5 linked regions of the Homo sapiens genome follow. The protein of the gene in region 1 purifies or fractionates together with the protein of each later gene. This does not show direct contact. Each region holds a gene or a part of one and is shown in the gene's direction. Other genes may lie near its edges.

Evidence for each region.
Region 2: the proteins of MTMR9 (region 1) and IFT74 purify together in Homo sapiens (co-immunoprecipitation; one large-scale study listed by IntAct). This does not show direct contact.
Region 3: the proteins of MTMR9 (region 1) and SLC22A16 purify together in Homo sapiens (co-immunoprecipitation; one large-scale study listed by IntAct). This does not show direct contact.
Region 4: the proteins of MTMR9 (region 1) and ZC3H3 purify together in Homo sapiens (affinity purification with mass spectrometry; one large-scale study listed by BioGRID and IntAct). This does not show direct contact.
Region 5: the proteins of MTMR9 (region 1) and LRRFIP1 purify together in Homo sapiens (co-immunoprecipitation; one large-scale study listed by IntAct). This does not show direct contact.

The regions. Positions count from the first base shown.
Region 1 is NC_000008.11:11,289,384-11,294,815, forward strand, and holds part of MTMR9 (myotubularin-related protein 9), read left to right. Parts: intron 1-5,432. UniProt on the Homo sapiens protein: Acts as an adapter for myotubularin-related phosphatases. Increases lipid phosphatase MTMR6 catalytic activity, specifically towards phosphatidylinositol 3,5-bisphosphate and MTMR6 binding affinity for phosphorylated phosphatidylinositols.
Region 2 is NC_000009.12:26,957,498-26,964,323, forward strand, and holds part of IFT74 (intraflagellar transport protein 74 homolog), read left to right. Parts: intron 1-4,451; 5' UTR 4,452-4,470; coding exon 4,471-4,590; intron 4,591-6,826. UniProt on the Homo sapiens protein: Component of the intraflagellar transport (IFT) complex B: together with IFT81, forms a tubulin-binding module that specifically mediates transport of tubulin within the cilium. Binds beta-tubulin via its basic region. Required for ciliogenesis.
Region 3 is NC_000006.12:110,440,388-110,447,213, reverse strand, and holds part of SLC22A16 (solute carrier family 22 member 16), read left to right. Parts: intron 1-223; coding exon 224-341; intron 342-4,438; coding exon 4,439-4,970; intron 4,971-6,826. UniProt on the Homo sapiens protein: Facilitative organic cation transporter that mediates the transport of carnitine as well as the polyamine spermidine. Mediates the partially Na(+)-dependent bidirectional transport of carnitine.
Region 4 is NC_000008.11:143,470,706-143,477,531, reverse strand, and holds part of ZC3H3 (zinc finger CCCH domain-containing protein 3), read left to right. Parts: exon of another isoform or gene 1-1,923; intron 1,924-1,946; coding exon 1,947-2,134; intron 2,135-6,826. UniProt on the Homo sapiens protein: Required for the export of polyadenylated mRNAs from the nucleus. Enhances ACVR1B-induced SMAD-dependent transcription. Binds to single-stranded DNA but not to double-stranded DNA in vitro. Involved in RNA cleavage.
Region 5 is NC_000002.12:237,778,167-237,783,771, forward strand, and holds the end of LRRFIP1 (leucine-rich repeat flightless-interacting protein 1), read left to right. Parts: intron 1-1,255; coding exon 1,256-1,366; 3' UTR 1,367-3,477; downstream 3,478-5,605.

The DNA.
Region 1 (5,432 bases):
TGCTTCACAAGTCTGTGGAATACTTTCATATATATCGCTTACATCATTTTATTTGATCCTTTCAACATGCAAGGTTGTATACAAGTTTTACAGTTATACCTGGTTTTTTTTTTAATGGACCTCAGAAAATTGAGTTACTACTACTCAGTTGATGACTCATCATTTTCATGATTGATTCCTTAAAAGGTTTCCTCTGTTGTTGATTTTCTTCCTCCCTAATTTTCACTCCCGTTTCCTGCCTCATCCACAATCCCTGTAGGCAACCACGTTAGTTGTTGCTATAAAATAGATAGCACTATTGTGTATGGGTGTGCGCACACATGCATGTGTGAGTTTAATTTGCCTAACTGGGATTATGTTGTAGATCTTGTTCTGCTTCTTAATATGGTGACACAATACTGTTTCAAGATCTCTTCATATTGCTGTGTGTACAACCATTTCACTGCTTCTGACAGCATAGGATTCCAAAGTATCTAAAAGAGCTTCCTTAACAGACCTTTTAGGTAACTTCCAACTCCCTGCTATCACAAACAACTCTGGTAAACATACTCATTCATGTCCCTTTATATAGTCTTGTGCCATAATTGCTCTGAGACTGCCCCTAGGATGGGATGGCGCCATAAAGTAGGTGCGTATCTCATTTCACAAACTAATTGCTTTCCAGGATGACAATTGCACATTGCCTTCCCATGATGGTGCAGGAGAGGGTACCTCGTCTCCACTTTCTTACCAACATTTGGTATTGTCTTTCTAATTTTTCCAGTCTGAAGATTGTGAAATAGTTATTGCTTTGTTTTAATTTGAATTTCATTAATTATTAGTGTTTAATTATCTTTGTATATGCTTGTGAGCAGTATACTTAAAATTTTTTTTTTTCCTTTTTGTGAATTGCCTAATTTCTGTGGTCTACTTTTAAACATTGGGTTTATTGTCCTTCTCATGTTGATTTGCATGGGTACCTTGTATACTCTGTGGGTGTTCATTCTCCATTTAGGCATTACGAATGTTTTCTAGTGTGTCACCCATCTGTTGTTTTTTTCTGTGGTGCCCTTTGTTGAACAGAAATCTTTACTTTTAATGCAGAACTTGCCAATGTTTTGCTTTATGGTGTGTGGCTTGTCTTAAGAACTCCTTCCCTGTCCCCAAATCACCAGGATGTTCTCCTACATTTTCTTCCATAATAGCTTCATAGTTTTACTGTTCATTTTTAGGTCTTTAATTTGGATTCTATCTTTGTTTCAAGTGTGATAAGAACCTATTTTTCTCCATAGAGCAAGCCAGTTTTCTTAATCCCATCACGTGACAACCCAACCTTGGCTGGTTTATGTCAAGTTATCCTATATATACGGGTCTGTTTCTGAGCTCTCTGTCATAATCCATTGGTTCATTAATCTGCTCTTTTGTCATCATCATATTCTCTTTCCTTCTGTGGCTTTGTGATGTGTCCAAAAATCGGATAGTGCTAGTTGCCCCGCTTTCGTTTTTTTTTTTTTTTTTTAAAGTTGACAACTATGTTTCGACCTTTATGTTTCCATGCAATTTTGGAAAACTTGCTATGTTCATGGGATTTTTAAAAGTCTTTAATAATAATTGAAGACTCAAAGGCAGTTGCAAAAATTGCACATAGAGGTTTTAGAATCGTCCACTCAGCTTCCCCTAATGTTGACCTGTTTTATAACTGTAGTGTAATCAAAATGAGGACAAAATTAGGACATTGACATTGGTGCAGTACTATTAACTAGACCACAGACTTTATACAATTTTCATAGGATTTTAAAAAAATGAATTGTTTTGGATTTATAGATTAATTGGAGTCAAATTGACATCTTGACATCCATGAACAATGTTACATTATTTATTCAGATCTTCCTTTAAGTCCCTTAGTGGAACTTTAAGATGGTGTATATGCTAGGTGCTGTACTAGGAGCTGAGGATATAGAAATTAATCAAACATGCCTTCTACCTGAAAAAACTAAGACCATTATAAGAAATAAACATATAAACTAGAAAGTTTAATAAAGTATTTTAAATGCTGTGATAGGGATGTATACAGGGCATGGATGGGACAATAAGGACAAAATGATAAAATAGAACTGAATCTGACAATTGATGTGAATCATAGGAGTTTTGTGGAGCTCTTATGTTTTTAAAACATATTTTTCTTGGCCCACTGTTCTATAAGTAACTGACTAGAAACATTGAATAAATGAATGGAGAATACCTTAATAGTTTATAGCATATTTATTCTGACATAAAGTAACAATTATTTTTAACTCCTCTAGTCATTCATTATACTTTATAGCAACTACATAAAACCTGCCAGACTAACAAAACAAAATTCACCTTACAAAATGAGTTAGTATGACAAGCATAGATGATATGGAAATTTACAAGAGAATAACCGTATGTCTTGTACATTTTTTTTGTTTTTTTACTGACAGTTTGGTTGCTGTGTGTCTTTCACTTCCAGCTGAAGCAGAATGACAGTGATTTTTAAAACAGTTTTATTGAGGTACAGTCGACGTATTACACACTATATATATTTGAAGTGTAAACTTTGATGTGTGTTGATATATGTACACACCCTGAAACTGTCACCATAAGTTCAAGATAATGAATTTATCACCCCCATAAGTTTTGTGGTGCCCTTTCGTAATCCCTTCCTTCTTTTCTTTTCCAAGTAGTCACAGATGAGTTTGCATTATCTAGAAATTTATGTCAGTATATCATAAATCATGCAGTACTCTCTTTTGAGATTTGTCCATGTTGTATATATCAATAGTTCATTCTTTTTATTGCTGAGTACTAAGTGTCCATTTTGCAGTATTCCATAGTTCATTTATTCACCTGGTGATGGAAATGTGGGTTTCCAATTTGAGGCTATTAAATAAAGTTGTTTTTAATATTCTTATGCAAGTCTTTGAATGAACATGTGGTTTCTTTTCTCTTGGGTGGCAAGCCATTTACTTGCCAGTGGAATGGCTGGATCAGATGTAGGTATGTGTTTTACTTTTTAAGAAGCTGCCCCAACTGTTTTCCAAAGTGCTTGTACCTACAGTTCTACATACCTATGAGCAGTGTGTGAGAGTTCTATTTCCTCCACATTCTTGTCAGCATTTGCTATGGTCTGTCTTTTAAATTTTGGCAATTCCAATAGATGTTAAGTGGTATCTTACTGTGGCTTAAATTTGCATTTCCCTTATGACTAGTGGTGTAGGGCATCTTTTCATATGCTTATTTGCCATCCATATGTCTTTTTTTTGCTAAGTGACCATCCATATAGTTTTCCCATTTGTAATGGATTATTTGCTTTCTTACTGCGTTTTGAGAGTGTATGTTTGTATATTCATACACAGTCATGTGATTTATTATATATATGATGGTAGTCCCATAAGATTATAATGGACCTGAAAAGTTTCTCTTGCCCAGTGACGTTGTGTTTGTGGTGATGCCAGTATAAACAACAAACCTGGGCTGCCAGTTACACAACAATGTAGCACATACCATTGCATACATCACATAATATTTATAAACGATCATAAAACGACTTTGTTACTGGTTTATGTATTTACTATAGTATACTTGTTATTGTTATTTTAGAGTATACTGCTTATACTTCTAAAAAGAATGTTAACTGTAAAACAGCCTCAGGCAAGTCCTTCAAGAATTATCCAGAAGAAGGCATTATCATCACAGGAAATGACAGGTTCATGTATGTTATTAATATTTCCCCTGAAGACCTTCCAGTGGGGCAAGATGTGGAGATGGAAGACAGTGACATTGATGATCCCAACCCTGTGTAGGCCTAGGCTAATGTGTGTGTTTGTGTCTTAGGTTTTAACAAGAAAGTTTACCAACAAAAATTTTTTAATTGGAAAAAGCTTATAGAATGAGGATATAAAGAAGGAAAATATTTTTGTACAGCTGTATGGTGTGTTGTATTTTCAGCTTAGTGTTATTACAAAAGAGGTAAAACGTTAGAGATTAAAAAGTTTATAAAGTAAAAAAGTTACAGTAAGGTAAGGTTAATTTATTGTTGAAGAAAGAAACATTTTAACAGTAAATTTAGTGTAGCCTGTTGATGAAGTCCTCAATAGCCTACAGGAATGCCCCGTGGCTTACCTTTTCATGCTCTTTAACCCTGTGTTTCAAAGAGCAGACGTTTTACATTTTGAACATGTCCAATTTGTCAGTTTGTTCTTTTATAGATTGGGATTTTAGTGTCTTATCTAAGAAACCATTGCCTCACCTAAGGTCACAAATATTTTCTCTCATGTTTTCTTCTAGCAGTTTTATAGCTTTGGGTTTTACATTTAGGTAAAAGGTCCCATTTTGAGTTAGTTTTTGTATATGGTTCATGATTATAGATTCAAATTCTTTAAAAAAAAAAAAAGCTATCCAGTTGTGCCAGCACCATTTGTTGAAAAGACTGACCTGTCTTCAATTGAATTGTCTTCGTATCTCTGTTCACGTGTAAGTGGATCTATTTCTGGACTCTTTTTTTCTGTTCAGTTGATCTGTTATCATCATGTCATTTTCACACTGTCTTAATTACTGTAGCTTTATAGTAAGCCTTGAAATTGTGTAGTGTTAGCCATACCACTTTGTTCTTATTCAAAGTTGTTTTGGCTATTTGAAGACATTTGCATTTCCATATGAATTTTAGAATCACCTTTTCAGTTTCTACATTAAAGTCTGCTGTGATTTTGTTTGGAATTATGTTGTATCACTGGATGAATTTGGGGAATAATTGACAATAAAAAGAAAATTCTGGGTACATTTACACAATCGTCATCTGCAAATAAAGGTAGTTTTACTTCTTTTTTAATCCTTTTTTATTCTTTTTACCTTACTGCACTAGTTATAACCTTGAGTGCAATGTTGACTAGAAGTGGTGACAGTGAACATCTTTGTGTTATTCATGATTTTAGAGAGAAATAATTCAATCCTTCACCGTTAAGTGTGCTATTAGATTTAGGGGTTTTTTTGTGGGGTTTTTTGTAAATGCCCTTATCAGGTTGAGGAAGTTCCCTTCTGTTTCAAATTTGCTGAGAAATTTTTGGTTTTTCATGTTTTTAAATCAGAAATGGATGTTAGATTTTGTCAAATACTTTCACTTTTTTTTTTTTTTTTTTGAGACAGAGTCTCAACTCTGTCACCTAGGCTGGAGTGCAGTGGCTCAGACTCGGCTCACTGCAACCTCTGCCTCCCGGGTTCAAGCGATTCTCTTGCCTGAGCCTCCTGAGTAGCTGCATGCCACCACGCCCAGCTAATTTTTTGTATTTTTAGCAGAGACAGAATTTCACTGTGTTAGCCAGGATGGTCTTGATCTCCTGACCTCGTGATCCACCCGCCTTGGCTTCCTGAAGTGCTGGGATTACAGACGTGAGCCACGGCACCCGGCCCTTTTGCTTTTTATAAATTGATACATA
Region 2 (6,826 bases), on another chromosome or scaffold:
ATCAGGGAGCTAGTGGGGTCAGGAAGATTGATGTGAACATATTCAAATGAGATATCTGAATGGAAATTTCAGATAAACAATTGAAAACTCAAAATTGGTGCCCAGTTGAAAGGGCAGAACTGTAGACATTGATTAGTGAGCCGTACACATAGTTGGAGTTATAAAGATGCATGACTGTAGAAAGGATAGAAGCAGTCCAAGGACTGATTACGAGTAATGCTAAGAAAAGTCAGAAAAGTAGTACTGGACATAGAGTGTAGAAACAGAGAAATCATTTTAGTCCAACACACGCTTTGTTTGCCTTTTTTTTTTTTGAGACGGAGTCTTGCTCAGTCGCCCAGGCTGGAGTGCAGTGGCGCGATCTCGGCTCACTGCAAGCTCCGCCTCCTGGGACTACGCCCGCCACCACGCCCGGATAATTTTTTTTTTGTATTTTTAGTAGAGATAGGGTTTCACTATGTTAGCCAGGATGGTCTCCATCTCCTGATCTCGTGATCCACCCGCCTCGGCCTCCCAAAGTTCTGGGATTACAGGCGTGAGCCACCGCTCCCGGTCGCTTTGTTTGCTTTTTAACAATTTAGTAAATTTTTGTAATTGGCAATACCTTTATGTACGAGGAAATTTAAAAGATACAAGAGAGAACAAAGTTTTTGCTTATCACTGAGACAGATTTTGGGGATATAAAGATGATTAAGATTCAGCTCTTGCCATAAAGGGTGAGAAATACTTAAGCAGATCATTTCAAGTGGTGTGATAGGTTCTGGAATAAAGTAATACACAGGATGCATGGTAGCATGTAGAACAGGCCTATACACTGAAATTGAAGAAGACGAAGATTCCAAGACCAGTTATGGACTGGTCATGGAAGGATTCCCAGAGAAAGTAATAGGCAAAATGTGTGTTAGGCAAGGGGACCACTTAAGAGGCTGGTATAATAGTCCACCTGAGTCAGTGATGCCCTGAATTGGCCAGTGCTGTAGGAATAGAGAGTAAAGTACCTGTTAAACACTTAGGAACAAAATCAGTAGAACTAAACAAAACAAACTCAGTAGAACTATGTGACCAGCCATGGGAGTAAGGGAGAGGAAGATGTCAAGGACTAAATTTCTTACTTGTGTGACTAGGAGGTGACACCAAGAGGAAGGACAAATTTTGAGCAGATGATAATGAGTTTGGATTACATATGTTTATTTTGAAATATTTAGACATCTAAGTGGAGATGTTATTATTTGGATATAAACACCGCAAGCTGAGTGCTAAAATAAGGAAGTTGTGTGGAATCAGTTTATTAATTGTTAAAACCCTGAGTGTGGATAAGGGGGCCCAAGGGGAGTTTAGAGAGAGAAAAGAAAAAGATGGTGGATGGTATCTTAGAAAATGCTCTATATAAGGACAGATCAAGGAGACAGAAAAAAGAACCAGAAGAGAGGGAAGTGTCATGGAGATGTTTCATATAAATGTGGACACCAGTAAAGTAGGATGACATTTACAGCACTGGCAATATTGGCAGGGGTCATTTGAATCAAACGGTAGCAATCCAGGAGATACTGGGAAATGAAGCAGTAGAAAATAGTGGATATAAGCTATTCTTTTTGTTGTTGTTGTTGTTGTTGTTGTTGTTGTTGTTTTGAGACGGAGTCTCGCTCTGTCGCCCAGGCTGGAGTGCAGTGGCACGATCTCAGCTCACTGCAAGCTCTGCCTTCCGGGTTCACGCCATTCTCCTGCCTCAGCCTCCCGATTGGCTGGGACTACAGACACTCGCCACCACACCCGGCTAATTTTTTGTATTTTTTAGTAGAGACAGGGTTTCACCGTGTTAGCCAGGATGGTCTCGATCTCCTGACTTCGTGATCCGCCCGCCTCGGCCTCCCAAAGTGCTGGGATTGCAGGCATGAGCCACCGCGCCCGGCTGGATATAAGCTATTCTTAGGAATTTGGCTGCATAAGGGAAGGATGTATGGGACAGTTAGATAGAGGTGGTTGCAGGATCAAGAAATAAGTTTTTGAAGGTAGGAAAGAATTGAACATGGTAACAGACTGAAGGAAAGGAGAAAGTTTAAAGATAATTGGTAGCAGTGAGGTTAATGCCACAAAAAAGATGGGATCAAGGGTAAATCAGAGTAAGATTGATCTTGAATGAGAGAAGGAATGGCTGTTGAGACTGGAGGGCAGGATGGATGTAGAGAAGTTTATGTGCCCCAAAGGTGATGGAGTTCAAGTTGTAATTTTTTTAAATGAGTCATCTGCTGAGAGTGGCAGGAACAGAGGTTAAATAGAAAAGTAGTTAAGGGTGAGAATCATCAAGTAGAGAAGTATCTTAACAAGGATAAATCATTTCTGAAATGAGGGTCCAGCTAAGATTTGTGACTATCACTTTGCAGTACCCCAGTCTGTACAGTTGTATGATTTCCATCAGCAATGTTCAGCACTTCAGATTGGATGTAGAGAAGGGTTTCTGATTTTGCCAGATGGGCTGGAGAATAGTTCAAGGATACAAATTAGTTGATAGTGCTCATGAGACACTAATTTCTTGAGAGAAGGAGGAGAGTTCTTAAACACCCTTGTCAAGGTATCACTAGTGACTTCTTGAATGGGGACTCCATTGGACATTTCAGTTTTCATCTTACTTGAATTTCCAACGTAAATGGCATGGCTCAGATTCCTGCCTTCTCTTGGCGTCTCTGACACACACTCCTGGTTTTTTTCTTTGCTTTCTGGGCCTTAATTTTCAGTCTCTCATACTAGATTTTCCTCTTGTGTGTAATCTGTATGTATTGATGTTCCTCAGGACAGAATCTTGGGCACTATTCTCTTTTTCTCCATATTCTTTGTCTAGATAAGTATCTTCATAACTATTTTATATGACCTACAATAGGACATACATTTTTATATTGTAGCCCAGTAAACACATATGTGTAAATTTATGTAAATATAGCTGAAACAAAAATTTACTGAAACAATGTTTACCCTTCATATTTTCAGTGAGCTCTTTTTGTTTAAATTTTATTTCACGTTTAAGTATCTTGGTCATAACCTACAAAATTGTTTTCAGAACTTACTAACGGATGTGACCAACAATTTGAAAACTACTACTCTAAATTATGAGACAGAATTTTAAATAATGTTATATTCTGATGAATAAAGGAGAGGGCTGATAAACTGGGAGAGAATGAGTGAATTAAGGAAATGGTTTAAAGGCAGGTGTAGCAGAATGAAGATGAGAAAAGGGTAGGAGAGGAGAAGACCAGAGAATAGAGTATTTCAATTAAGATGTTTGAGGTGAAGCAATTCCAGATGATGACAAGCTCCATGTCTCGCCATGGCTATAAATTACTGAAATGGAGTTAAGATCATTGCTAAAGTTGAGGTCAGGGAACTGTGAAGCTGGAGTGTTAGGTATTGGATCTAGTATCTAGATGGAAGTCATCCAGGGTGATGGTGAGATTGGAATAGAGAAGCTGTGAACTAGGTACAAAAGACTTTAGTAAAGATAGAGGAGAGATTAGGAAGTCACTAATTACCAGCAACCAGGAAAGATCAAGGCAATATTGTTGCATTCCCAGATCCTCAGAAGAAGTGAATCTTGTTTTTTTTTTTTTTTTTTGGGTGGGGGGATGGAGTCTCGCTGTGTCGCCCAGGCTGGAGTGCAGTAGCGCAATCTCGGCTCACTGCAAACTCTGCTTCCCAGGTTCATGCCGTTCTCCTGCCTCGGCCTCCTGAGTAGCTGGTACTACAGGCACCCGCCACCACGCCCAGCTAATTTTTTGTATTTTTAGTAGAGACGGGGTTTCCCTGTGTTAGCCAGGATGGTCTCCATCTGCTGACCTCATGATCCACCTGCCTTGGCCTCCCAAAGTGCTGGGGTTACACGCGTTTGCCACTGCGCCTGGCCTCTTGTTAATTTTTTTAAAGGTGTGGAAGAATGTTTTGAAAGTGACCCTGAGGAGCAAGAAAAGTGCCACCTCCTTTTCTTTAAAATTGTGGGACAGGAAGCTAAAACACTTGGACTACCGAAAGTGTTACTCTCAGGGGAAATCAAGATTCTGTTAAAGTTAAGAAAATAGAAAGTATTTGTAACAAGATTCAGAATATAAGAGTTAATCATGGACCAGAAAGTGCAGAGAAAGGATTAGGGGCAAAGAAAGATGTTGGCTATGATGGGAGAGAAAATTTACCAGAGTATGGGATGAGAATACTAAAGAAATAGATAATAGAGGGGCTTGCATTTTGGTAAGATAATAGAAAGATGAGGAAGGAATGTTGCAAGAAACAATCTCATAGTTGTAAATGGAGCACGATGTCATATTTGAACAAAATTAGCCTTGTAGTGGTACACAGAACGGCAGTTTGCAAGAACAATTGTTGTGAATTAAATGTAAGGGTATGATGGGTCATTATTGTCTTGCTAGAGAAGACATCAAAGGATTGAACTATTTATTGTTTCCAAACAGCGATTAAAGTGAAGAAACAATGGCCAGCAATCACAAATCTTCAGCAGCTCGCCCTGTTTCAAGAGGTGGAGTTGGGTTAACAGGAAGGCCTCCTTCTGGGATACGACCCCTATCAGGAAATATTCGAGTGGCAACTGCAGTAAGTTTGAAACAAATCTATTTACTTTGGGAGGCCAAGGTGGGAGGACCACTTGAGTCCAGGAGACTGGGGCTTCAGTGAACTCTGATCATGCCACTGCACCCCAGTTTTTGAGTTTTTGAGACTGTCTCAAAAATCTGTTGAATGCTTGTGCATATATTGTGGTAGAAGTTGGAAATCCCCTCTGTAATAAGAGATTCTACTTTGTTGTTTCTTTATTTCATAAGCATATTATTAAACATGTTTGTTTTGTTTTTTGGAAAGCATCTGGAAATGTAAATGTGGAAGAGTGTTTGAAAGACACTCTGGGAAGAAGATGCCTGCTCCTGCAGATACTCAATTTAAAGCTGCAATAATTTTAGTTGAATAGTGTATTGGGGCCAGAATAAAATGAAATGGAATAGACCTCAAATAGAATCAAGCATATAAGAATTTAGTTAATGATTAATGTGTGTTTCAAATTAGTTGGCAAAACATGGAGCATTCAATAGAACATTCCAATAATTGTTAAACCATTTGTTTAAAAGTATTTTTAATCCTCTCTTATACCTTTTATCAGAATTCTACATAGCTTAGAAACTTGGTATTTCAAAAATGAAACCATAAATGTAGTAGAGGAAAATGTTGGCAAGTATTCTGTATAAACTTGATATGGGCTAGGCTTTCTAAACATGACAGAAATAACAAGTACTGAAAAGGAAAATATTTTTATTATATATCTGAATTTACAAAAAATAAAACACCATAAAAAATTAGAAATGACAACTGGTAAAAACATTTATAATATATATACCATATATAGGATCAGAATCTTAAAATTAAAAGGTAAACTTTACTAATTTTTTTTTTTTTCTTTTTTTCTTTTTTTTATTTTTATTTTTTTGTTATACTTTAAGTTTTAGGGTACATGTGCACATTGTGCAGGTTAGTTACATATGTATACATGTGCCATGCTGGTGTGCTGCACCCACTAACTCGTCATCTAGCATTAGGTGTATCTCCCGATGCTATCCCTCCTCTCTCCCCGCACCCCACAACAGTCCCCAGAGTGTGATATTCCCCTTCCTGTGTCCATGTGATCTCATTGTTCAATTCCCACCTATGAGTGAGAATATGCGGTGTTTGGTTTTTTGTTCTTGCGGTAGTTTACTGAGAATGATGATTTCCAATTTCATCCATGTCCCTACAAAGGACATGAACTCATCATTTTTTATGATTGCATGGTATTCCATGGTGTATATGTGCCACATTTTCTTAATCCAGTCTATCATTGTTGGACATTTGGGTTGGTTCCAAGTCTTTGCTATTGTGAATAATGCCGCAATAAACATACGTGTGCATGTGTCTTTATAGCAGCATGATTTATAGTCCTTTGGGTATATACCCAGTAATGGGATGGCTGGGTCAAATGGTATTTCCAGTTCTAGATCCCTGAGGAATCGCCACACTGACTTCCACAATGGTTGAACTAGTTTACAGTCCCACCAACAGTGTAAAAGTGTTCCTATTTCTCCACATCCTCTCCAGCACCTGTTGTTTCCTGACTTTTTAATGATCGCCATTCTAACTGGTGTGAGATGGTGTCTCATTGTGGTTTTGACTTGCATTTCTCTGATGGCCAGTGATGATGAGCATTGTTTCATGTGTTTTTTGGCTGCATAAATGTCTTCTTTTGGGAAGTGTCGGTTGATGTCTTTCGCCCACTTTTTGATGGGGTTGTTTGTTTTTTTCTTGTAAATTTGTTGGAGTTCATTGTAGATAGATTCTGGATATTAGCCCTTTGTCAGATGAGTAGGTTGCGAAAATGTTCTCCCATTTTGTAGGTTGCGTGTTCACTCTGATGGTAGTTTCTTTTGCTGTGCAGAAGCTCTTTAGTTTAATGAGATCCCATTTGTCAATTTTGGCTTTTGTTGCCATTGCTTTTGGTGTTTTAGACATGAAGTCCTTGCCCATGCCTATGTCCTGAATGGTAATGCCTAGGTTTTCTTCTAGGGTTTTTATGGTTTTAGGTCTAACGTTTAAGTCTTTAATCCATCTTGAATTGATTTTTGTATAAGGTGTAAGGAAGGGATCCAGTTTCAGCTTTCTACATATGGCTAGCCAGTTTTCCCAGCACCATTTATTAAATAGGGAATCCTTTCCCCATTGCTTGTTTTTCTCAGGTTTGTCAAAGATCAGATAGTTGTAGATATACGGCGTTATTTCTGAGGGCTCTGTTCTGTTCCATTGATCTATA
Region 3 (6,826 bases), on another chromosome or scaffold:
GTATGTATATTAGCAACTCAGGTAAAGGCCTCTCCACTGAACAGCTGGTCTTTTAAAGAAGCCATGGAACTTATGGTTTGCTCAAAATAAATAAAAGAAAAACAATCAATACATAAGCTATTCAAGGTATATAGGTAATGCCTATCTTTTATGAATTGGAGTGGATGTTTAAACTGTTACAACTCTACCTTTCCTCTTCCACTGTGTGACTCTTATTTTTCAGGCTAGGACGCCGGGTGGTCTTGTGGGCCACAAGCAGTAGCATGTTTTTGTTTGGAATAGCAGCGGCGTTTGCAGTTGATTATTACACCTTCATGGCTGCTCGCTTTTTTCTTGCCATGGTGAGTTGTGTTTTTTACTTCTTTAATTCTGCTGCAGTTTTTCATAGGAAACCTTAACTCTCATCATTTTGCTCATTTAAGATCTAGTGAGCGAGATCAAGGACTCATCTTTGTCCACTCCACTGCAGAAGTCTGCCTACAGAATACCAATGCCTTATGTTTAGAATGGAACTCATTAAAGTGAAAAATTGTTGCTGGCTAGGCAGAAGTGTGTTTGCCTCTGTGTCGGGCATGTGGTCCACATGTCACAATTACTGAGGCATTATTTTCTTTCTGAGTAATCATATTGGTCTAGTCAGGGCCTGTTCACATGAGCAAACAGACAGTTGAGGTGTGTGGTTAAAGTCACTTGTATAATGTACAGGAAGAATGAAAACAGGAGGGCATTAGGTCCTTATGTTACCAGGAACGGCAGTTTAGTGGAAAGGGCACGAGTTTGAATACCAGCATTGTCATATATTGGCTTGTTAGTTGTATGATCAGTATCCTCTTTGAACCTTTGGTTGCAGTCTGTAAACTGTAGAAAAGAATCTGTGTTTATTATTATTATTCTCAGGATTCAGTGAGATTAAGTATAAACAACCGCAGTACAGCACCTGATTACAATGGTAACTTACTAGAAATGGACTAGCGAGCAAGGAGGCTGTTTCCATGCTCAGTGAGGCTTCCAGATAGATTTCCAACTATCAAGCAACATCAAGAATAATAGAGGGAAGTTTCCATCTGGAGGAGGAGCTTGTGATCTTGCTAAATGCAGAGCAGCAGGTTGGATGGTCTGAGGGTCTGGAGAGAAGCAAAGGGCTTCAATCTCTCTGCACCCCCTCAGAGAACAAGATGGGGTGTCAGTTTTGGAGTCTTTTTTGATGGATAGAAAGGGTTTCTAGCAAACCATACAGTTGGCCAAGGATAAGGAAGATGCATAAAAATAAATCTAGGAGACTGGAAGGTGTTGTACCTCATTAAAAAGTAAATATATATATTTAGGAATGTAAAGAGTTTTAAATACAAGATAGCAACCAGTAGTTCTGTTTCCACTGAGGACATAACTCTGTGACTGTAGAGTGAGATTTCACGAGAGAAACCTTCTGGTGGGACTGAAGGCTCCACAAAGGCACAGGTACTAAGAAAGTATAAACATCATCTTTTGGAAGACTTAAGAGGATATTTCTGAAAATATCTGTTTCAGTCTTGCAAAATACCACGCGTTGGCTTCTATACCCAAGGAAACAAGGCCACACCCATAGAATACATCCGTGAAATGTGGCCTTAATTTTCTGTGACTGTTTCCGTTGATGTTCATGGGGAATGGATTTGTGGGGGAATTCTGTGGATGGGAGATGCAGGCAGATTCATTTACTCAACACATTTATTGATCTGTCTACAGAGTGTAATGCTAAGTAAACCAGACCCAGCTGTCTCAGTAAGTCTAGTAGGAAAGGCAAGACGTTGATCAGCCATCTTCAAAAATAAATAAAATGTTGACAGTGAGGGCATAACATCAGTGGGTCTGGAGCGTTCACCAGGGTCTGGAGGGTCAAGGGTTTTCTCACTGTGAGGGATGGGTGAGAGAAGAATATTCCAGCAAAGATAGAAGTGGATGAAAGGGCCCTGAGATGAGAAAGAAAAGCCGGAATGTCTGGAGAATAGAGAGGAGGAGAGACGCATTGATGAGGCTGAAGGGATCAAGGCGGTTAGGTGGGGCTTTGTAGGATTGTCAGGATTTTGCTCTATCTCCTAAAGGCAATGGCAATCCACAAAAGGGATTCCAGGAATTCTGGCTGCTATGAGGGGGTGGATTCCGAGAAGATGTGAGTATTATTATCAGTGGAAGGGATGGGTGTGAGTGGATTCACAGAGTGTTTTGGAGTTAGTTGTATATGGATTTTCTGAATCCAATAACAGAGGAAGTTGTAGCTGACTCATGAGAAATAATTAGCATTGAAAAACCTGACAGGGACAAATATTACAGCTTAATTTAACTGGGAAATTTATAGTATTTGAAAGTTATCACAATCTTTGTTAATGTAACAGCAGCGCTTACCAAAAGCGACTTCTGGATTGTTAGATGTAGGGTCCCGATGATCTGAGTCTTGCCATTACAAAGTTGCACAGGGAAATAAAAGCTGTTGTCACAAAAATATTAAACTGATTATGAATACAGTAGTCCTCATCAAGCACCTCCCTGCCTCCTGCTAGTGTCAACCCTTTCTGACAGCAGGAATATCCTTGTAGGCCGGCCTCTTTGTGACTGTCCAATGCAAGGAGAAATTGCAGTTATTACAAGGGACACATGTTTACAAAAAGTCTTTAAAAGCAGTGAGGGAACAGGGGAACACTGCCTGAATCCTGCCCACAACCTTTGGCCAGTGGGGATCTGGCAGAGAGACCTGTTAACTTTTGAAGAAATTAACATCTGCAAGGATAATCACATAATGAGCCTTTGAAAGAGTATGATTCAAATATCTAATGATTAAGAGAAGCCTTTGGGGAGTGGTGCTCTCGAATAATTTTACAAAAGTTAATTGTATGATTTGTGTTGTAGAAGTCAAATATGAAAAAATTTTGTAGAAAAAATTCTTCCCCTCCTCCTCCCAAAAAACCCATCAATGGACTCATTCTTTGTTTATTTCAAGAATGGTCACATATTATATTCTAATCACATATTGTAATCTAATTTTTATTAAAGATAGTCATATTTCCAAAATAAAGTTTTTCCCCAGTTTTCCTTCTTGTGGTAAAGTACATATAACACAAAATTTACCATCCTAACCATTTTTAAGTGTACAGTTGAGTGATATTAAGTGCATTCATACTGTGGTGCAATTATCACCACTGTGCATCTTCAGAACTCGTTTTCATCTTGCAAAACTGAAACTCTGTCCATTGAATAATAACTCTCTGTTCCCTGTCTCCCTAGCCCCTGACAACCACCATTCTACATCCTGTCTCTATGAGTTTGGCCACTCTAGGTACCTCATGAAAGCGGAATCATATGATAGTTGTCTTTTTGTGACTGGCTTATTTCCCTTAGCATAATATTCATTGTATGCATAGACTACATTTTTCTTATCTATTCATCTATGGACGGACCCTTGGGGGGTTGCTTCCATGCTTTAGCTGTTGTGAATAATGCTATGAGCAGGCATGTGCAAACATCTCTTCCAGACCCCACTTTCAATTCCTTTGGGTATATACTCAAAGGTGGAATTGCTGGATCATGCTGTAATTGTTTTTTGAGGAATCGTCATACTGTTTTTCCTAGAGGCTGTGCCATTATACATTTCTCTCACATATTACACATGGGTTCCAGTTTCTCTACATTCCCGCCAAAACTTGTTATTTTTTTTTTTAATTAGCCACACTAATGTGTATGAGGGGGTATCTCTTTGTAGCATTGAATTGCATTTCTCAATGATTGGTAAAAATTTGTATTTCTTCTGTTTGAAATGTCTGTTCAAAGCCTTTGCCCATTTTTGAATTGGATTGTCTGTGTTTTTGCTGTTGTTGGATTTTAGGAGTTCTCCATAAAATCCCTTATCAGATATTTGATTTGCAAATATTTTATCCAGTTCTGCAGGTTGCCTTTTCCCTCCATTGATAGTGTTCTTTGATGCACAGTTTTAATTTTCATGAAGTCTAATTTGTCTTCTTTGCCTGTCAAAATAGAATTTTAATTAAATCAGTTTTTCTTACCACTAGTTAGCGTAAATTTTTTTGTCTCCATTTAGCAGTTAGGATTTAACAATAAGGACCTCCTGGATACAGATAACTTGATGTATGCATTTACAAGGAATGGAGAAATACATCCACAGTATAATGAAATATTTAGATGACACAAAAGACAATGTCTAACATTTATATCATAAATAATCTCTCAAGTTTTGCCATTTGGGGTGGGGAGGATGAGGGAAGATGAAAGGACCTATAAGAAAAAAAGATAGATCGGATTGAATGTCATTTTATACATCTGATAGGGGTTTCAGAAAGCAAGTCTTTGTCATTTTCTTTTTTGCCTATATGTGATTTGCAATGGGGTCAGACTCCTCAATAGTTATAAATGTGACCTTGAATATAAATCCCTATTATTTGTTTTTCAGGTTGCAAGTGGCTATCTTGTGGTGGGGTTTGTCTATGTGATGGAATTCATTGGCATGAAGTCTCGGACATGGGCGTCTGTCCATTTGCATTCCTTTTTTGCAGTTGGAACCCTGCTGGTGGCTTTGACAGGATACTTGGTCAGGACCTGGTGGCTTTACCAGATGATCCTCTCCACAGTGACTGTCCCCTTTATCCTGTGCTGTTGGGTGCTCCCAGAGACACCTTTTTGGCTTCTCTCAGAGGGACGATATGAAGAAGCACAAAAAATAGTTGACATCATGGCCAAGTGGAACAGGGCAAGCTCCTGTAAACTGTCAGAACTTTTATCACTGGACCTACAAGGTCCTGTTAGTAATAGCCCCACTGAAGTTCAGAAGCACAACCTATCATATCTGTTTTATAACTGGAGCATTACGAAAAGGACACTTACCGTTTGGCTAATCTGGTTCACTGGAAGTTTGGGATTCTACTCGTTTTCCTTGAATTCTGTTAACTTAGGAGGCAATGAATACTTAAACCTCTTCCTCCTGGGTAAGTAGTTACAGTATATTTAAATTTGGCAGTGAAGTGAGATTTCTACCATTTGTGTGTGTGTGTCTGTTTCTGTGTGAATTTGAGAAAAAGAATGTTTTTAATAGGCCCTTTAAAACCAGGAACAATACTGCCAACCATATTATTATGATATCTCTTAGTGTTATGTTGTAACACATGTACATATGAGGGGACTTCAACCAGTTCATGGAAAAATGGCATTAAAAGACAAAAATTTAAAACATAAACTTTCTCAACATGATTGCCATCAAGGTCAAGACACTTTTGTACGACATCAGCCATTTATTCCATCCTTAAAAAACTGAGGGTCCTGAGAATGTACCCATGTCAATGCAGTCTTATTTACACTATTAACTGAAGAAAAATGGGTGCCGCGTACAGACTTTTTAAGATTAGGAAACAGAAAGAAGTCAGAATGAGCCACCATGAGAACTGTTAAGGTGGCTGCCTAGTGATTTCCCATCAAAACTCTTGCAAAATTGCCCTTGTTTGATGAGAGGAATGAGCATGCCCATTGTCATGGAGGAGAAGGACTCTCTGGTGATGTTTCCCAGGCATTTTTCTACAAAAGCTTTGGTTAACTCTCTCAAAACACTCTCCTCATAAGCAGATATTTTCATTCTTTGGCCCTCCAGAAAGCTAACAAGCAAAATGCCTTGAGCATCCCCAACAAACGTTGCCATGACCTTTGCTTTCGACTGGTCCACTTTTGCTTTGACAGGACCATGGCCCCCCTTGGTAACCATTGCTTTGGTTGGGCTTTGTCTTCAGGATCAGACTCGTAAAACCGTGTTTCATCTCCTGTTACAATTCTCCAAAGAAATCCTTCAGGATCTTGATCCCACTTGTTTAAAATTTCCATGGGAAGTTCTGCCCTTCTCTGCAGCTGATCTGGGCACAACTGTTTTGGCACCCATTGAGTGGAAAGTTTGCTCAACTTTAATTTTTCAGTCAGAATTCTGTAAGCCAGACTAATTGAGATATCTATGGTATTGGCTATTGCTTCTGCTGTTAATCTCAGTCTTTGTCAATTAGGGCATAAACAAGATGTATTTTTTTCCTCAATGTGGATGCTCTGCCACTGTGGTCTTCATCTTCAATATCGTCTTGTCCTTTCTTAAAATAAGTTATCCATTTGTAAACTGCTGATTTATTTGGGGCTTTGTGCCCGTAAACTTTTCATAAAGCATCAATGATTTCACCATTCTTCCACCCAAGCTTCACCATAAATTTGATGTTTGTTCTTGCTTCAATTTCAGCAGAATTCATGTTGCTCTAGTGGGAGCTCTTTTCAAACTGATATCTTATTCTTCTTAGTGCCTCAAACTAGCTCCTCTTCAGACACGTTCTAAGAAGTTAGTACAAATTTCTTTTAGTGCAGAAAAAATCTGAAAACACATGCATAGTTTTTTCATAATATGCACTTTCCATTAACTTTTTTTTTTGGAAAAGGAGTCTTGCTCTGTTGCCCAGGTTGGAGTGCAGTGGTGTGATCTCAGCTCACTGCAATATCCGCCTCCTGGGTTCAAGCGATTCTCCTGTTTCAGCCTCCTGAATAAATGATATTACGGGCACATGCCACCATGCCCAGCTAATTTTTATATTTTAGTAGAGACAGGGTTTCACCATGTTGGCCAGGCTGGTCTCGAACTCCTGACCTCAGGTGATCCACCCGCCTTGGCCTCCCAGAGTGCTGGGATTACAGGCATGAGCCACAGCACCCCGCCGTCCATGACCTTTTTGAAAACTCCTTGTATTTTCCATTTGAAAAAAATGCATCAGAAGAATTTAGTCTCTCCCTTTCTGCCTTCTCTCCTTGCTCACCTTCTTCACAC
Region 4 (6,826 bases), about 130 Mb from region 1:
ACCTGGAGGCCGGGGCTGCACTGGGACCCCAGGGTCTGATGAGAGCCTGGAGGTCTGAGTCTGGCTGGCAGGATGCCTACCCTCCACCCCTCTGGCCCAGACAGTGCCCGGCTGGGGGTTGGGGAGCAGCTGGAGTGTGCAGGGCGCAGACAGGATAGGTGGGAGGTGGGGGCCAGCAGACCACTCAGCACTGCCAGGCCCCTTGGTGGGCTCTTTCCCGCCAAGATTGGTGTTTGTGAACTTGAATTTTAATTAAAGGAAACTGGGTTAAGTGCTCCAGCCGCCGTGCTTGTACTTACACTGCAGCTCCCATCCCCGGCACCGGGCTCTCTCTGCTCCCATTCTCTCTCTAATGGGCCCTTGGAGGCCCCCGGCTGCTGAGAATTACCCCAGCTTGCAGGCAGAGGGACCAAGGCCCGGAGGGGTTGCAGGGCTGAGTGGTGGGGATGGCGGTGGAACCCGACAGAAGGGCTGCTCCATCCCCAGTACCACCAGGTCTGTTGGCTCCTCGTGGGTGGCTTTGATGGATATGCTGCTGTCCCCCTGTACCTGCCCCATCCAGCCAGACAAGCGAGCCCCACCTTCATGCATGCTGCGGGCCTGGGTCTAGGGGGCACCCCACCCTGGCCCAGACCAGCTGGAAAAGGGTCTCCTGCGGCTGTGGATGGGTTGGGGGGCTCAGGTACTCCACAGCAGAGAGGGCTGTGTAGCTGCAGGGCCATGGGGACCAGTGTGGGATGGGGAGCGTAGAGCAGGGGCACAGCCCTGTGCCAGGCCTGAGCTGCCCGTCCTCGCCTCCCACTTGACTGGTCCCTTTGCTGCCTGCGCACCCATGGCTGCCCAAAAATGTCTTGCCCAGATTTGCTGGGGGTGTGGTATCCACCTCAGGGGTCATGGCAGCTTGAGCAGAGCGTGAGCTCATGTGGAATCAAGCTCAATTTGCCAGGCCCTGAGCCCCCCACCTTGGGGGCTGCTTGCCCGAGGGTCCGCAGGGCTGTGGGTGTGGCTGGCAGCTGCAGGGAGGTGCCTCTGGAGTGCAGCTCAGGCCCCTCTTGTCTTACTCTGCCCCTTGGCTTCCTGGAGGCTGTGGAGTATTTGGCAGGAGTGGGGGCTGCCAGGGCTCAGGGTCTGTCGGCCTAGGTCTCTTCCTCTAGCCAGGGTCATCAGCTCAGCTAACTCCAGGGGCTGTCGCGGCCTCTTCAGCCCTTGGACTTGAGGCAACATCAGCATTTCCCTCAAACAGCCTGGCCCGGGGTCTGTGAGGCTGTCCCCATGCCCTCTCAGTGCAGGGCTCTCTGAGCTGTGGATGAAGGGGAGGCAGGACAGGGTGGAGGAGGAGAAGAGGCAGGGTAGCCTGCTGACCCTATGGTGTCTGTGGTCCTGACGGCCAGGGTGGTATGTGCTGGGGCCGGTTGGTAGAAATAGCCCCAGCCTTGAAGCCGACTCAAGGGAGCCTCAGCCCAGGTGCCAAGGGCCAGGTGTGCTTCTCACCAACACGCAGACACCTTGCAGCCCCTCTGCCCTGCAGCCCCAGGGACCCTTACCCTGCAGCACACAGCCAGGTGGTCAGGGCCCAGGGGTGGTTATATCCACGGGGAGGTGTGCACTGGAGGACGACGCTGCCCTCTCACCGTGGCTTCTAGGGGCGCATGAGTTCCCAGCCTCGTGGGTGGGGTCGGGGGCGCCACCTCCTGGGACTCCTTGTCAGTGTTCCCTGATGACGGCCAAAATGTCCCTGAGGTGGGGGTTGGGGGCCAGAGGGGGACAGAGGTCTCTTGGCAGCTGGGCCAATGGCCCGTGGTCACCCAGCTGGAGTGTGTACCCACCGCAAGTGCTGCTCCCTGTCCCCCTTGGGAGGCCAGGCCTGGGCTCGGCCCCTGGCACTGACCATCAGAGCTGTAGTCTGTCCTGGGGCCAGGTTTGACGGGCATTTCCTGTCTCTGCAGGTCCCTGGTGCTGAACCGCCTGCGTCCAGTTGCCAGCGGGGGTGGGAAAGCCCAACCGGGCTCCCCTTGGTGGCGGAGCAAAGGCTACCGCTGCATCGGAGGGGTCCTCTACAAAGTATCTGCCAACAAGCTCTCCAAGACCTCCGGCCAGCCCAGTGATGCGGGCAGCAGGCCCCTCCTGCGCACAGGTGAGAGGTGAGGGCGGGGGCGCTGGGAGATGACACCGACCGGCTAGCGTGTGGTGGGCATTGCAGGCCAGACCCCCTAACCTCCAACATGCTGTGGCTGCTCTGGGCCTTGGCTCACGCCCCTGTCTTGGGGAGGAGGTCAGGGGCCTCATGCTCCCAGGGAGCCAGTCCAAACAAGCACTTCCCAAATGGGTCACGTCCCATCCTGGGAGTTAATTTCACTCTTCCATACACCCGGCGCCTTCGTAGCCATCCCTAGTGAGACCAACAGGGCAGCCGGAGAATGGAGGGTGCCAGGAGGCCTTCCTCTGCCATCCCCCAGGAAGGGCCCTGGAGTGGCGCCCACCTCGCGTGGCTGAGCGGCCCCTGATTTTCTGTGGGGTGGGGGAGAGTTGCTCACAAGCACCATGTTTCGCTTTTGGAAAAAGGATGATGCCAGGTACGGCAAACACGCCCGGGCGAGCGCACACCTGGGGCCGCGGCGCCCGTAATCGCATTGGCGACGCCTCGACAACTGTGTCTGGAGGCAGCCGGCGCCGCCACCTTGCGCCCTCCCAGCCCAGGGAAACAGGCTCAGGAGAAGGAAATGCTTTGGATTCACTTATCCTACAAATTAACTAGAAAAATATTTTGGTTTCAGTCCAATTTTACCCCCTTTCTTGTCCATCAAAAAAAAAGAGGGAGATTGCAGGTGGTGTTGGGATTGCAGAGGCTGGGCCATGCTGGCTCCCCGACCCGCCTGGGACCTAGAGAGAGAACAGGTTCAGCCCCTGGAGGAGGTAGACTCCGACGGCAGGGTCTGCGGGGGTCAGAGGAGAGGCAGGAAGCGTACCTCCCTGGAAGCCAGCCTCACTGGCCGCCCTGCCTGGCTGTGTTCCTAGCATCCATCTCTGGGCTCCAGGGGCTTCTGGGCTGTTTCCTGGGCAGAGTCGCTGGGAGCAGCACGGGGGCCCTGGCACCTGCCCCACAGGGCTCTGAGCCACACTGTGGCTGGTCAGTGCCCATGACCATGCCTGTAGCCTGGTGGCTGGGGCTGGGGGGTCCTGGTGAACTGGGCAGGAATAAATCCCCACTCGCTGAGGATCTGGTGAGAAGCCCTGGGTCCCTTCCTCGGCACTGTGTCACCCCTGTGTGTGCCTCCCACTCACTGAGGATCTGGTGAGAAGCCCTGGGTCCCTTCCTGGGCACTGTGTCACCCCTGTGTGTGCCTCCGCTTCCCCACCCGTACCTTGAGGGACTGGGCTGTGTGATTTGTGCGTGTGGTCTCATCTCTGCTACACCCCGGGTGCTCAGTGCAGGAGCTGGCTCAGAACATGGGGGCCTTGGTGAGGCTTTGCCCCTGGGGGATGCTGCCGTGGGTTGGGGGATAGGCCTTCCTGTCACCCAGCAGGGCCTTCTCTGGTTACCTCTGATCCTCGGACTCTGGAGCTTGGTGGCCTGTGGGGCTACACACAGCTGTTTGTATCGTGGAGGGGAGGGGCCTCGGGCTTCTCTCCAGCAGTCATTTCCCTGAGTGAAGTATAAGCCCCTGGCCAGTCTCTGGCACAGCAGGTCCCAGGCGCCTGTGGCCGTCCACCAGCCACCAGCCATGTGAGCCAACAGGGACCCTGACCAGTGGAGCTCCCGGGGCCAGCAGCAGGTGCTCTGAGGACATCGTGCTTGACCCCCAGGGACAAAGCCATGAGGTGCCTCTCTGCTCATGCCGGGTGGTCCCACCTTCCCCTGGGCCTCCTTGGCAGAGGCCAAGCCCCACGTTGGCTGGCACTGTCCTGAGTGCACTGACACTGCAGGCACAGTCCTGGCACTGGCTTTCCTCTCTGGTCCTAGAGGCAGTGGGCAGAGCAGCCAGGCTGATCCCTCTGCCCAGGGAAGGGCACCCCGAGCCCTCACCTGCCTGCCTGGGTGGGAGGGTGCCCTGCATCTCCCATGGATGCTGCCTCTGACGTCCCTAGTGCAGGGAGAGGCGTGGGCTGAACACCAGTGAAGATTCCTGGGGCCCACAGGTGTAAATACGCAGACTCGTGTCCAGTCAGGTGGTCAGGGAGGCCTTTCTCATGAGCTGAAAACTGAGAGGGCCCAGAAGGGACAGAAGCAGCAAGAGCATCCTGAGGCCGCCATGCAGAGGCCTGGGCAGGAGTGGGAGGGGGCGTGAGGCATCGCAGGACCCTGTGCACAGCCAGCAGGGGGAGGAGATGGGTTGGGGGCAGGCGGGGTCTACCTGGCACCACTGCACCCACATTCAGAAAGCTCCCGGTAGTCACGATAGTAGTACTGACTGAGGTTGATAATTAAGTGGCCAAGACAGCAGCCATGGAGACCATGATGTCCTGACGTACGCGAGAGCCCCAGGCGGCCAGGATAGGCAGCAGAGGCTGCTCCTGGCAGTCAGTCTGCAGGCCCTGCCCTGCTCTGCGGAAGCTGGAGCCAGGGAGGGGATGCCTACTGCCCTTTCCAGAGCCAGAGCCCATCCCAGGGAGGACCCACCCACTCAGGGAGTGGCCCCCACTGCAGCAGCTGCATCCCACTCCCTGCACAGGGCCAAGGCTGGCCCCGCCTGTTCACCCAGGTCGCGGTGCGTCCTTGGGATTCTCCCTGCACCGTGCACCCGCGGGACCCACGGAGGGGCTTGTGGCATGGGTCCGTCTCCCCGCACCGGGGCCCTTGGGTCGTCTCAGCCCTCGCCGGGATCCTGTGGCCCACGTTTGTTGGGCTGGGTGGGCCTGTGTGGGGAGGTGCACCTGCCATCCCAGCTCTCCCATCCCTCAGTGTCCACAGAGACGCCTGTGGCAGGCAGCAGGTTTGCACTTGGCCCCCTCAGACACGGTGCCCACCACCCGGATGGCCCAGGGTCTGAGCTTTGGGGAGGAGGGAGTGCATAGCCCTGGCCCGCTCAGCAGTGGGGAGGAGAGGGAGGGGCTGCACACTCCTCCCTGGGAGGCTGTGGTGCTGCTGTGTCTCCCCGTCGGTGCCAAGTGCTGAGCTCCGCAGAATCTCGCCTTGCCATTTACACACATGGCAGAGCCCTGGCGGGCGCAGAGCCCCTGACGTCACCACACTGTGAACAGTCTATCCCGGCCACCCTTGCTGACTGGCCTCTGCCTCCGTTGGCCCTTCCCTTGGCCCAGAGCCATCAGAGAGCCAGTCTGGTTCCCCCAGCCCTTCTGGGGCATGTCTCACCCCTGCACCAGCAGCAACCCAGAACTCCTTCATTCAGCCTCAGCAACGCCAGCAAGGAGGGTCTGGCGCACAGAGGCTGGTGCCAGCCAGGGCAGGCAGGGGTCCAGGGGCCTCCTTGCTCCCACCCCTGCCCCTGGGGAGGCCCGCCTGCCATCGAGTAGGGCTATGGCCTCCGGTGTCCCGCTGGCCAGCCTTGGTGGCGACTGTGGCAGTCCTGGGGCTGTGCAGAGCCCAGTGAGGCCGCACTCGCCCTTTGGGTCGACAGGCGAGGCCACAGCTCCAGCTGCCTGGGCCACCACCGGCCCCGCCTCGCCATGAGGAAGGTAGATGGCTCCCAGCTGTGGGATACCGCTGACCAGCCCACTTAAGAGGAATAATAATTAAAGAAATAAATTTCCTCCCCTGGTGTCAGCAGAAATTTGACTTCAACAAGAAAGTGCAGCAGCCTTCTTGGAAGGGGTGGGGGTGGCTGTCCTGGCTGACCCCCTGGGCTCTGGGCCCCTGACGGCAGAGGACAGTATGGCTTCTACCCCCAGCTTCCCCAGTCCCTGAAGCCGAGCCCTCCCTCCTGGGCCCGCCTGCCACCTGAAGGCCTGAGCTCCAGGGTCCCTCCCCACAGAATCCTGTGTGGGCCCCCAGTGAGCATGGCCCATATGTGGCCACCATGAGCCTGATGGCTCCTGTGGTGGGGCAGAGGCCCCAGTCTCTGGCCACAGGGCTGGCCTTGGCTTGTTCTGTGTCCCCAAAGCCCCCAGCCACCTGTGGCCGTGGCCCTCCCTGCTGTGGGCCAGCTGCTGCGTGTTCCTGGCACGTCCGGCCTCTGCGCCTCCCCTGCTGGTCACCTGCCCACCCTCCCTGGGGTGACGAAGGCCCTGTCGGCTTGCCCCCGCCCCACACTGCCTCTTCTGGGGCACCCTCTGCCGCTGGCTGCCTTCTCCCAAGGGCACAGCCTCCATGTGCCAGACGGACGTGCCCTGGAGGGCCTGGTGGGCGCGCTGTGAGCAGACCAGGGCTTGGCGCAGCCCTGCCTAACTTCTTGGGAGAGTGCTGGCCTGGGAATTGGGGCTGCCTGCGTGCCCCGGTCATCGTGGATGTTGTCCCTTGGGCCAGGCAGCAGCTGTCCAGTGGGTGCTGGCCGGAGCAGGGCCTGGAGGTGCTGAGGAACCTCTGACTGCAAGGCCCCCACCCCGCTTGCCTTGCAGAGCCTGACATCCAGCGGTGCCCAGAGCTGGCACTGGGGCACCGAGCAGGGGGTGGGGCTGGTGGGAGCCGAGTCTATTCTGAGAAGATCCCGGGGAAGTGAAAGTTCTCTGGAATGCATGGCGCCTTCTGCTGTGGAGCTGCTGGGGGTTATTCAGTTGAACTTTTTAGCACTTCTCAGGCAGCCCTTGCTTCTTTTCCAGCCAGCTATTTTATGTGCATTTTTTAACACTGCAAAGCATTTGAAAAAGTGCCTCCTGTTCTTGTCAGAACTCCTGCCGTGAGCCTCACACTGGCATTTTTTTAAAGAGCACA
Region 5 (5,605 bases), on another chromosome or scaffold:
ATGCTTGATTTTAATTTGTAGGAATAACTCCAGGCTTAACTTGTGGAAACTTCCTGCAAAAAGGGCTTGCTTCTGCCTCTGCTAGTGAGGTGGGGTCGGGACTTCTGTCCCAGGACCCAAACAAGCTTCCTTGAGTGTTTTGGGTCGAAAGCAGAGCCATAGACCCTGTTCTTGTCACCCCTCCAAAACCACGTTCTCCCAGCTTAGGGCACCCCACTCTGCCCTGCTGCCTGTGGGTCCAGATGATGCCCTGCTAATGTGGCTTCTGCAGCTCGTCTTCTGCCTGACTCTCAGGCTCCATGGCCCTGGCTCCCAGGTGTGGCCGTCTTGGCCTCAGGCATTCCTGCCTTGGACTCTGGCTGCCAGGGCTGTGGGGACCACCTTCGCCATGCAGTCCAGGCTCAGCTCTTGTTGTTTGTGTTTGTTTACCTCATGCCTCACTTACCTTTTGTGAAACCATCAGGATCCCCACTGGGCGTGTGGCTCACGCCTGTAATCCCAGCACTTTGGGAGGCCGAGGTGGGTAGATCACCTGAGGTCAGGAGTTCAAGACCAGCCTGACCAACATGGTGAAACCCCATCTCTAATAAAATACAAAAAATTAGCCAGGTGTGGTGGTGTGCACCTGTAGTCTCAGCTACTCAGGAGGCTGAGACAAGAGAATTGTTTGAACCCAGAAGGCGGAGGTTGCAGTGAGCCAAGATCACACCGTTATACTCTGGCCTGGGTGACAGAGCGAGACTTTGTCTCAAAAAAAAAAACAAACAAAAAAAGAGGCCGAGCGTGGTGGCTCATGCCTGTAATCCCAGCACTTTGGGAGGCCAAGGCGGACAGATCACGAGGTCAGGAGATCGAGACCATCCTGGCCAACATGGCAAAACCCCGTCTCTACTAAAATACAAAAAATTAACTGAGGGTGGTGGCGCACACCTGTAGTCCCGGGAGGCTGAGGCAGGGGAATCGCTTGAACCCGTGAGGCGGAGCTTGCAGTGAGCCGAGATCACGCCACTGCACTCCAGCCTGGGCGACTGAGCGAGATTCCATCTCAAGAAAAAAAAAAGAAAACCATCAGGATCCCCAAGGGTGTTCCCTCTCTGGAGTCCAGTTGTTTCAGAGGAGGAAGGGCATCATGAGGGACCAGGGGCCAAGTTATCATTTTATTTTTCAGTAGGATTGGAATTTCGGTAACACAGAACCCTGTTATGTTTGGAGGAAACAAGTTCCTTAAAGCTCACTGCCTTTCCTCCGTTCCCAGCTCCGCTCTGCATTGGATAAAACAGAAGAGCTCGAGGTGAGCAACGGCCACTTAGTGAAGCGTCTGGAAAAAATGAAAGCAAATCGGAGTGCACTCTTGTCCCAGCAGTAAATTCCAGCTCTGATCAGGCAACTGGTTGGTGACTGGAGAGCATTGTTTCATAGGCTTTTCTCTGTCCTATCTGGGAGCGCTGCTTCTTCCCCTGCCTTCCGAGAGACGAAGACCGTGGCGAGCTTGGCGCTTAGGGGCTCCCGTGCCATGGCTCACCCCAGGGAGCCCCAGCAGCCACCAGGTGCCTCTGTCTGCAGACCCCTGGCCCGGGCTGGCGCCGACGCTCAGAACCTGCAGGTACTTCATAAGCACACAGGGGCCTCGAGGGAGCTCTGTGTCTGACCGCACAGCAGCCTCTGAATGCCGCTGGAAGTGATGATCAAAGTAAAGATTCAGTTGGGACTTGAGTTTTTTTTTTTTTTCATGTGTCTTGCTGAAGATTAAGGGGAAATGTTACAGTGTTGGGACTTCCTTTCATGGCAGAATCTACAATTTGAGCGACTTCAGTAGTATCTCTTAGTCTACGCTTTTCATACACAAAACACTGTGGAACCACAAGCCATTACCAAGCAAAACTCTTTCACTGGAAACAAGGGGGCAGTCTAGAAGTAAAAGTGACCTTAAGAAGACTCTTTACAGGCAACAAATGAAGCTTTTCTAAGGGATTTTTGCATCAGTTCAGTCATAAGAATACTTTTTTCCAGGGTAATTAGGCAATAGCTTCACTGAAAATGACAGCTTTTCATTGCATTATTTAATCCTTATATTTGGAATTGAAGTCGTTAACTTCTTTTAAAGAATGTACTATTAGAAAAATTAAAAATGAAATGTTGAGAGACTTCAGCAATGTGGTTCTAATTTTTTTCCACTGAGAAAGAAGATCTTTAATTTCATATTAATGGTTCTGTATATTTTGGGTCATCTTTTTATTTTTTAAGAATATCAAGTCAATTCATTTTTCTTTCCCTATTTAAAAAAAAAGGTGTTTTCACAGAATGAGTGCACTTAAAAAGTGAAGTGAAGGAGGAGGTAACAGTAGAGACGATGGCAATATCATCAAGGACAAAAGTAAAAACGTTTAGCTACCTGCTGATTTTTAGTGACTGTTCATATATGTTGTATTTCAAGTATGGCTGGTGAAGCCAGTCAGCTTTTCGGGACGTTAGCAAGTGGAAACTGAGTCAGTATCATCCAAAACCATATCTAGTCTTAACACATGGAGAATGCTGGAGTGAGGGTTGTGAGTTCAGGGTATATAATCAAGAAAACACTCCCAGCATAATGCTAGGGGTCACCAGTGTCCATCCCCCAGAACTGTATGGATCTAGGATATACACAGCTGCGTTGCATTAAGAAAGAGATGAAATCTCTATTAAAATACACAAGATTTTTGTATCTCCTTGTGCAGAGGATATTTGCCACTGCCCATTGGGAAGCAGACAAGTTATAGGGGGCTGGGGGCCAACACTGGCAAGTAGGAAACCACGGGTCGGACAGGTGAGCAAAATGTGCTGGCAGGTGGGCACCACTGGGAGACCCACACTGCACACCCGGGCACCGTATGAACAGGAAAGAGGAAGGAAGCTGGACGAAGCCCCTCAGGGACCCTGTGCTGACCATGCTGGGCCCACCGGCAAAAGGGAGATATTCAGTTCCTTGTCTCATCCTTAAGGTTTCTTCCACAACATCTGAATACAAGCATGTTTAACTGGGAAAATGTCTATGTCATGCGTGAATAACACCAGCAGCAAACACTCACACATCACGCAGACACGGCCGGCAGCATGCTGACGCTTTTAGGTATTTTTCACTCATGCAATTTTCACATATTTTCACTCATTTCATTTGCACGGAAATTCTATGAGGTAGATGCTGTTATCAAATCCACATTACAGATGAGGGACCCAGGGTCCAGGAAGGTGAACTGGCAGAAGTCTCCCAGCTGGTAGAACAGGGCTGCAAGGCATCGATTCCCAGGTGTCTCACAGCCCTGAGAAGATGGCGTTTTCCCTATCAGTGGCTCTGAGGAAGTCAAGCCTTCAGTCTCTACCTCTCCCACCAATTCTTTTGGAAACAGCAAACCAATGTTACACACACTTCCTAATCCAGAGGAAGCTAGAACACGATTTTTAAATTTATTTAGTAAAATAAAACTTTTTTTGCAGATGTAACGAATGGAAATTGGTTGCTGGCTTCTTTCATCCCTGCAACCTAGCGTTTCTCAGCCTCAGCACGACGGTCGTCTGGAGCTGGGTCGTTCTTGGTGGCTGGGGTGGCTGTCCCCTGCACCGTGGGATGTTGAGCAGCAACACTGAACTCTACCAACTCATTGCCAGTAGACCCCACTCCCGGTCATGACACACAAAAACATCACCAGACATTGCCAAATGTCCACTGCGGGGGTGAGGGGCGTGTAAAAGCGCCTCCCATTGAGAACCACTGCTGTAACCTGAATTAGAAGATTTGGAAAAGAAATGGTTGAAAACCCAGACCAGGATCCCTGTTGTATGTTTCCTATGAATGATTTTCATTTTTAGAAATGAAATAACATCTAGGACATAGAGCAAAACACTCAAAACACATCATAAATGGATAACATAAATAGATAAAAATCCAATGCAGTTCAGAATTACAATCAAATGTTATTTTCTCTTGTGTTTTAGAATTCCTCATTTTCATAGTCAAAATATCAACTAAAGCATCAAAAGTTCCTGTTGATATTTTTGAAAATGTGTTACTACTTAGCAAATTTGGATTTCTGGTTTGTACAGTGCTGAGCCCTTGAGGAATACCAGAAGAATGCACACCTTAAGGAGGCTGTGGTTTTCAGGGAGAGAACAGCCATGCATGAGGATGGCCATAGCAGAAGGCGGAGGGGTGGGGAAGTGCCAGCTGTTAGCTATGTGGAGCCAGCCAGTTGCAAATTTTCAAACCGGCAGAAGCATCTGTTGTGTTTCACTAAATGACCCGAGCCAGATGTGGCCCACGTGTTCCCGAGCCTGCCTGAGTATCTGAAGGGGATAGAGCTGATGTCCACTGACCTGCCTGGCTCCCTGCACCTTCAGCCACATTTCGGAAGCACTTGCTACCCAGTGTTAAGGATGTGCGGAGGCTTAGAGGATTCCAGCTCTGTGGTCAGGGCCTTTTGCCCTTGTGTCCAGGAGCCTCCAGGGCTAGCTCCCATCACTCAAGGACTGGACAGTTGTCCCTGAACCCCAGCCCTGTACTTGCTGCCATGCCCCTCGATGCTGCTGCCTAACCACTTGCTAGTGTGTATCTCCATGTATGGCCAGCCCCCCACCCCTGCCAGTTCCCCCTTGCTTGCTTCTTTCCCCTCTCTGCCAGAATAGCTCTGATCACCACTTGTGGATGGCTCCTACCTGGTCCCCAGGTGCACTAAATGCTAAGCAGGTCCTGAGCTCCACTGGCCCTGAGTGAAGTTGCACTGTCTGTGGCTGGATTTGTCTCTTCCAATTGTCCATCCTCTTGGGTGGCATAGAAACAAGAACATCAGAGACTTGGGAAGAGAACTCTGAGCTAGAAATATCTGTTGGCTGGGTGCAGTGGCTCATCCCTGTAATCCCAGCACTTCGGGAGGCCAAGGCGGCTGGATCACGAGGTCAGGAGATTGAGACCATCCTGGCTAACACGGTGAAACCCCGTCTCTACTAAAAATAGAAAAACAAACTTAGCCGGGAGTGGTGGCAGGCGCCTGTAGTCCCAGCTACTCGGGAGGCTGAGGCAGAGAATGGCATGAACCTGGGAGGCAGAGCTTGCAGTGAACCGAGATCACACCACTGCACTCCAGCCTGGGCAACAGAGCGATACTCCATCTCAAAAAAAAGAAAGAAAATATTTGAAGTTTATGTTAATACTTCCTAAATCCCAGGGGGCTGCTGTATTAGTCTGTTTTCACACTGCTGATAAAGACATACCTGAGACTGGGCAATTTACAAAAGAAAGAGGTTTATTGGAAGGTGAAAGGCATGTTTCACATGGTGGCAGACAAGAGAGCTTGTGCAGGGAAACTCCCTTTTTTTTCTTTTATACTTTAAGTTTTAGGGTACATGTGCACAATGTGCTGGTTAGTTACATATGTATACATGTGCCATGTTGGTGTGCTGCACCCATTAACTCATCATTTAACATTAGGTATATCTCCTAATGCTATCCCTCCCCCCTCCCCCGACCCCACAACAGGCCCCAGTGTGTGATGTTCCCCTTCCTGTGTCCATGTGTTCTCATTGCTCAATTCCCACTTATCAGTGAGAACATGCGGTGTTTGGTTTTTTGTCCTTA